Linked DNA regions of Homo sapiens: region 2 is linked to region 1. The links come from fine-mapping of genetic effects on gene expression. Tissue or cell type: whole blood. Region 1 holds a variant in brackets; the other region holds the start of a gene. All regions are shown on one strand. Distances are between the middles of the regions.

Evidence for each region. PIP is the estimated chance that this variant, and not a neighbour inherited with it, causes the effect.
Region 2: it holds the start of RND1, and the variant in region 1 is fine-mapped to the expression of RND1 in whole blood (TOPMed, PIP above 0.99).

What each region holds. Positions count from the first base shown.
Region 1 is chr12:48,816,266-48,818,943 of GRCh38, forward strand. It overlaps CACNB3 (calcium voltage-gated channel auxiliary subunit beta 3), which reads left to right and starts at 2,231. Exons shown (of 13, transcript NM_000725.4): 1 at 2,231-2,678. The coding sequence starts at 2,665. LOC101927241 (a long non-coding RNA gene) reads right to left here and starts at 667. Exons shown (of 3, transcript XR_245978.4): 1 at 495-667. RefSeq lists a silencer at 2,029-2,498. The variant A/C (reference allele first, on the strand shown) is at 1,205.
Region 2 is chr12:48,864,398-48,867,075 of GRCh38, forward strand. RND1 (Rho family GTPase 1) reads right to left here and starts at 1,473. Exons shown (of 5, transcript NM_014470.4): 1 at 1,251-1,473; 2 at 386-473. The coding sequence starts at 1,370. RefSeq lists enhancers at 1,287-1,406, 1,667-1,796.

The DNA of each region.
Region 1 (2,678 bases):
CTGATTATTCAGGCTTTTCCTCTTATGTCTTGCTTCTATGACTTGGGTACCTGCCAGCTGCCAGTCTAACAACTCTCTCCTAGAAAGAATCAGCAGGAGGAGCCTCTCCCCTGATCCTTTATTGCCCTCAGCTCTCTCCCTTTATGCCCAGCCATGAAAAAGAAAAGAGGTTAGGGCTACATGGACACTGACAGGCACATGTCCTGTCACAGGACAAGAAGTCACCAAGTTGGTATTAGAACTAGAGTAGGCAGGTGTGGGTGAGAAATGAAAGGAACATTGGGTAGCAACCCAGAGATATGAGAAGAAGGAGGGAAGCTCTGAAGCTACTGCAGGACCCAGGGGATGGGCCCAGGTATGAGGAGCTTGAACCCATCTCCTGGGGATGGTTGGCATGGCAACACATGCCTCAGGAGCAGACTTAGACAACCTTGTCGCAGGAGATTACAAGGAGTGTGAGGAAGGAGTGCTGCCGATGGCAGATCCGCTGTTACCTACAGCCCCAGGACCTTCTGTGGGTGGAGAGAGTCCCAAAAGGAGAGGCCAGGAGAGTGGATGCAGGGATGGGAAGAGAAACAGCTGCCTCCACCACTGCTTTCTTCACTAGAGCCATCTCCCAGGAGAAGAGCACCTTGAGGGTCTTACTCTTTGACACCTCTCCAGGCCCCTGAAAGAAGGAATTGAAGAGAAAGGATGAAAGAGGGGGATACAAGGAATACTGCGTAACTGGGTGAGGGCACAAAAGTGGGCAGTGTCTGGGAACTTCCAATACAGAAGAATCCAGTATATGACCAAACCCCAGTTGGTGCTGGACTCAGGAGAGGAGACAGTCCCTTCAGCCACAGGGGCTGCAACAAAGTTGTTTGTCAAACCCAGCATGAGGAAGGTGCTGGGCAGGGCTGCTCTGGGCCACCCACAGTAGACAGACTAAAGATGTCAGTCTGAAGATGCAGCTCTTCTTTGTCTTGCCAAGATAACACCGATAAGTGACCCAGGTGGGAAGCCACTTGGTTTGGGTGGGCTTTCTCTCTCCCATGCACAGTGCTTTCTACCATAGATCTTACTAAGCCATGTCAGAGTTTTGGATTTCTGATTCTCCTCAAGCCAAGGAGGGATGAGCAGATTGCTGAACTCCCGGGTGTGAGAAATTGGGAAGGAAAAGGACTGAGCTCAGGGCCAAGAGCATGGGCACCAGGAGGCCTCC[A/C]AGTGTAACCCCTGTCTACGCACATCCTCCTCGTGGGGCACAAAGGTAGGCAGTCAAAAATCAAAGAAGGAATTTTGCTCAGGAGATGAAAAAAGGAAAGAGCTCAAATGGGTGGATCTTTGGGGAAAGTTTCCTCAAGATAAGGGCTGCGGCTCTCTTACCCCAAATCTCAATGCTCCTGTAAAGGAGACTGAGTGGTGCAGAGTGGTACAAGCCCTTCTGCTAAGGGGAGAATCTGGCCTTACCCTAGTGACTCCGAGGAGACTGGCCCTTTCCTCTCCCAACCCGAGTGTAGCCAGGATCCCACCCACAACTATCCCCCTACCTCCACCCTCTGGCTTCTTTCCCCTTCCCTTTAGGCTCACCTAAAACAGCCCCTTTCTGCCCCAGTTCCCACGGATGCCTTGGCACTGTCTGGCACAATCCTTGGCAGGGAAGTGGGGAAGGGAACCCCCATCCTGGCAGGACTAAGACAAAATCTATCCGTGCAACAGGTGTGGGGAGGCCTACCCAGCTCACGGAAAGTTCCCCCCTTCTCAAGGGTTGGGCAACACCGCCTTTGCCGCAGCGTCCCCGTACTGAGGGGGCCGGGCACCTGTTGGGGCAGGAGCTGCCGTCCTGTCATTAGCCTGGGGGCACCAAGCCCATTCCTCCCCGGGACCACTGCGGGGTTTGCTTTCGGAGCCTCCGGGACGCACGGGCCCAGACCCGCCCTGCTGTCGCCTGGGACCCCTCCCCCGTCTGCCGCTCGTTCCCGCGCCTCTTCTGTCTCCCACGGTCTCCCCATTTTCCTGTCCTCTCCGTCCTCCCTCTGCCTCTCTCTCTCCGGTTTCCTCGACACCTGCGCCCTCTCCAGTCTCCGCCCGGGTCGCGTCTCCCTCGCGGTCTCAGCGCCCCCTCCCTCCCCCGCCGCAGCCCTTTGTTTCCCGGCGGAGTAGTTCCTGGGTTGCCGAGCGTCTCTGTCTCCGCATCTCTCCTCGCCCCGCCTCCTCCCTGCCTGGATCCGCCCTGCCCGCAGCCTCTCCTCCCCTTCCTCCCCGCCGCCACGGCCCCGTAGGTGCTCGGGGACCCACCTTCCACCTAGCACGGGTTCGTTCCCCTCTCCCGGCCTGGCCCGGGCTCCCCGGTGGCCGCCGCCCCCTCGCCGCCCCCGCCTTCTCCCGGGGAGGGGGTCAGGTGGGCGGGCACTATTGTTGTAGGAGCCGGCGCCAGATTCCTCAGCCGCGCTCGGGGTGGGACCGGCTGGGTTTGGGGGGGTGGGGTGGGGGGAGCGGTGATCTGAGCTCCGAGCAGCTGGTCTTCGCGGCTCGCTCCCTCCTTCGCGCTCTCTCGCTCCCTGCCGCCGCCCGCAGGGCTGCGGGGCTCGGTGGCATCTCCCGGGCGCGGCCCGCAGTCCTTGCCCCTGCCTCCGGGCCGCTCCCGCCCCCGGCGCCGCTCGCTCCCCCGACCCGGACTCCCCCATGTATGACGACTC
Region 2 (2,678 bases), 48 kb after region 1:
TGTGTGTGTGTGTGTGTGTGCGCGCGCGCGCGTGTGTGTGCATGTGTGTACGCGTGCATGTTGGGTGGTAGGGAATGGAAATGGAGAAGTCCTGTTTTACTGCCCACCCCCAGGACTATTCATGGGTCCCTTCACCTCACCATCCCAGCCCTCTAAAGGGTGGAACCAGACCCAGGGAAGAGAGTGGCTCCTGGGGTTCACCCACTCTGCACCCTTGGACCATGCAACTGAGTCCACCAACTGTCAGCCCTCCCCACAACTAATGAGTCTTCAGATCCTCTTTTTTCACTTCTCCCCACCAAAGGGGAAAACAATTTCTAAAAGACAGCAGCTACACAGCAGACCAGTAGGGGTGGGAAAGGGGTATTTGGAGCAGAATTCTTACCTGAGGTATCCCAGAGACTAAGCTCCACCCTCTGTTCCTCTGTCTCCAAACAGGCTGTGTAATTTTCGAACACGGTGGGCACATAGGTCTGTGAAAAGAGAGGAAACATTCACCCCATGCACCCCTACCCTCAGATCCCCTGGTTAGTGCTGGCTACACACGCACTCACCAGAGAGACAGTAAAGTCACAGGAGACAAGAAACCAGAGGAGATGCCTGGGGCAGGAGGGAAGGGACTGTGGAGGACCAGGCACTTTGCTCTGCAGCAGTGAGAAATGTGAATGACACCCCCCCACACCACCACACCAGGGGTAAGCCCCCCATATCCTAGGCGATCAGGGACACACACACACACAGATTCCTCCCATCCCCAGATTTGTGTTTCCCAATTTGAGAGAGCCACAGGCCAAAGCCAATCCTAGCTCATCTCCTCTCAAACCCCTCCCGGCCAGGTGAACAGAGGGGCTGCAGAAGCCTGCCTGAAGGCACAGGCATAGAGCCTTTGAGGAGCAGGTGAGCGGATAGGCAGGGATTACGTCAAGAAGAAACCCCAGACTTTCAAATGCCTCCAGTGCCCTCACCTGAGAGCAGACTCCAGGGACGCAGGAAGGTGGAGGGGATCTGATGGGTCCTCTGGGTGAAGAGGTGAGGAGGAGCCAGCGGGGCGGCAGAAGTGGAACAGGTCTCAGGGGAAGCTAAGGCAGGGCAGTCCTCCAGCCAAAAAGCAGCTGAGGATGGTAAAGCCTCAGAAAGCGGCTGAGGATGGGCTGGGGCTGGGGGAGCCACGTCTCCTGAGCAGGTGGAAATCTACCCCAAGGCGGGCAGGCAGGGAGAAAAGCCGGCCAGCGGGCGGGCGGGCAGCTCACCTCTGGATAGCAATCCTTCGCTAACACTTGCAACATCGCGGTCTTCCCACACTGCACGTCCCCGACCAGAACGAGCTTACATCTGGCCACGACTGGCTGGGGGGCCCGTCTCTCCTTCATGGTTGCAGTGTCCGCGGGACTTGAACTTCGATTCAGAAGGGAGGGTTGCGCCAGGTGCGTCTCAGCACGCCAATCAAGCCAGATTCCCTGCCTCCCTCCAACTGAGGAGGAGGCCGGCACAGCCGCCTTTTATTTTTCTGGCTGAGCCAATCACAAGAGGAGGCGGACTCTGTTACGCCCAATCCCTGAGGTGGGATTCCCTCCAGCAGCCAATGGATCTGAGGATCTGAGTCAGCGCCCCCTTCCTCCCTTCTCTTTCTCTTAAAGCTGCACCGTTGTTTCCCCCTGAAAGGGGATTCCCAGGTTGTTTTGCATTTGTATTAGGAAGTGGAAAGGGTACTGGAAGCAAAATGAAATGATCTGGAGTGTCTACCAATAAGTGTCAGAAAAACAAACTAGCTATGGAAGCAGGAAGTGAGGTCAGGCTGGAGTTGCAGGGACTGTCCCGGGTGGGTTACAAAAGCAGGACCTGCTTAGACTATAGACAGGTGTGTGTGTGTGTGTGTGTTTTGGAGGAGTAGGGGATGGGGGAGGTGGCCCAGAACTTCTCTGACATTTTTTTTCTTTTTTTTCCTTACATCTTTTGTTTTAAATAGAGACAGGGGTCTCACCATGTTATCCAGGCTGGTCTTGAACTTCTGGGCTCAAGCAATCCGCCTGTCTCAGCCTCCCAAAGTGCTGGGACTACAGACATGAGCCACAGCGCCTGGCCTGATGTCTGACTTTTTTGTTTTTTCTAATTCCCATCCAAACCAGTTCTTACTTCCCTTTATTTCCCCTCCCAATATCAGCTCCTGCTGTACCTCTTTTATTTATTTATTTATTTATTTATTTATTTATTTATTTATTTATTTATTTATTTTGAGATGGAGTTTCGCTCTTGTTGCCCAGGCTGGAGTGCAATGGCACGATCTCAGCTCACTGCAACCTCCATCTCCCGGATTCAAGCGATTCTCCTGCCTCAGCCTCCCGAGTAGCTGGGATTACAGGCATGCACCACCATGCCCAGCTAATGTTGTATTTTTAGTAGAGACGGGGTTTCTCCATGTTGGTCAGGCTGGTCTCGAACTCCCGACCTCAGGCGATCCGCCCGCCTTGGCCTCCCAAAGTGCTGGGATTATAGGCGTCAGCCACCGTGCCCGGCCTGTGCCCCTTTTAAAGCCTTCTCTTCTTCAAGAATCACCTTCACCACCAAAGACAGAGAGAGAGAAAGAGAAAGAGAAAACTTTCTAGAGTCATCCATAAAAAAAACACACAGCACCTGACCCAGTGATGGGCAGAGAGAAATGAGGGACTCTGGCAAGTGGG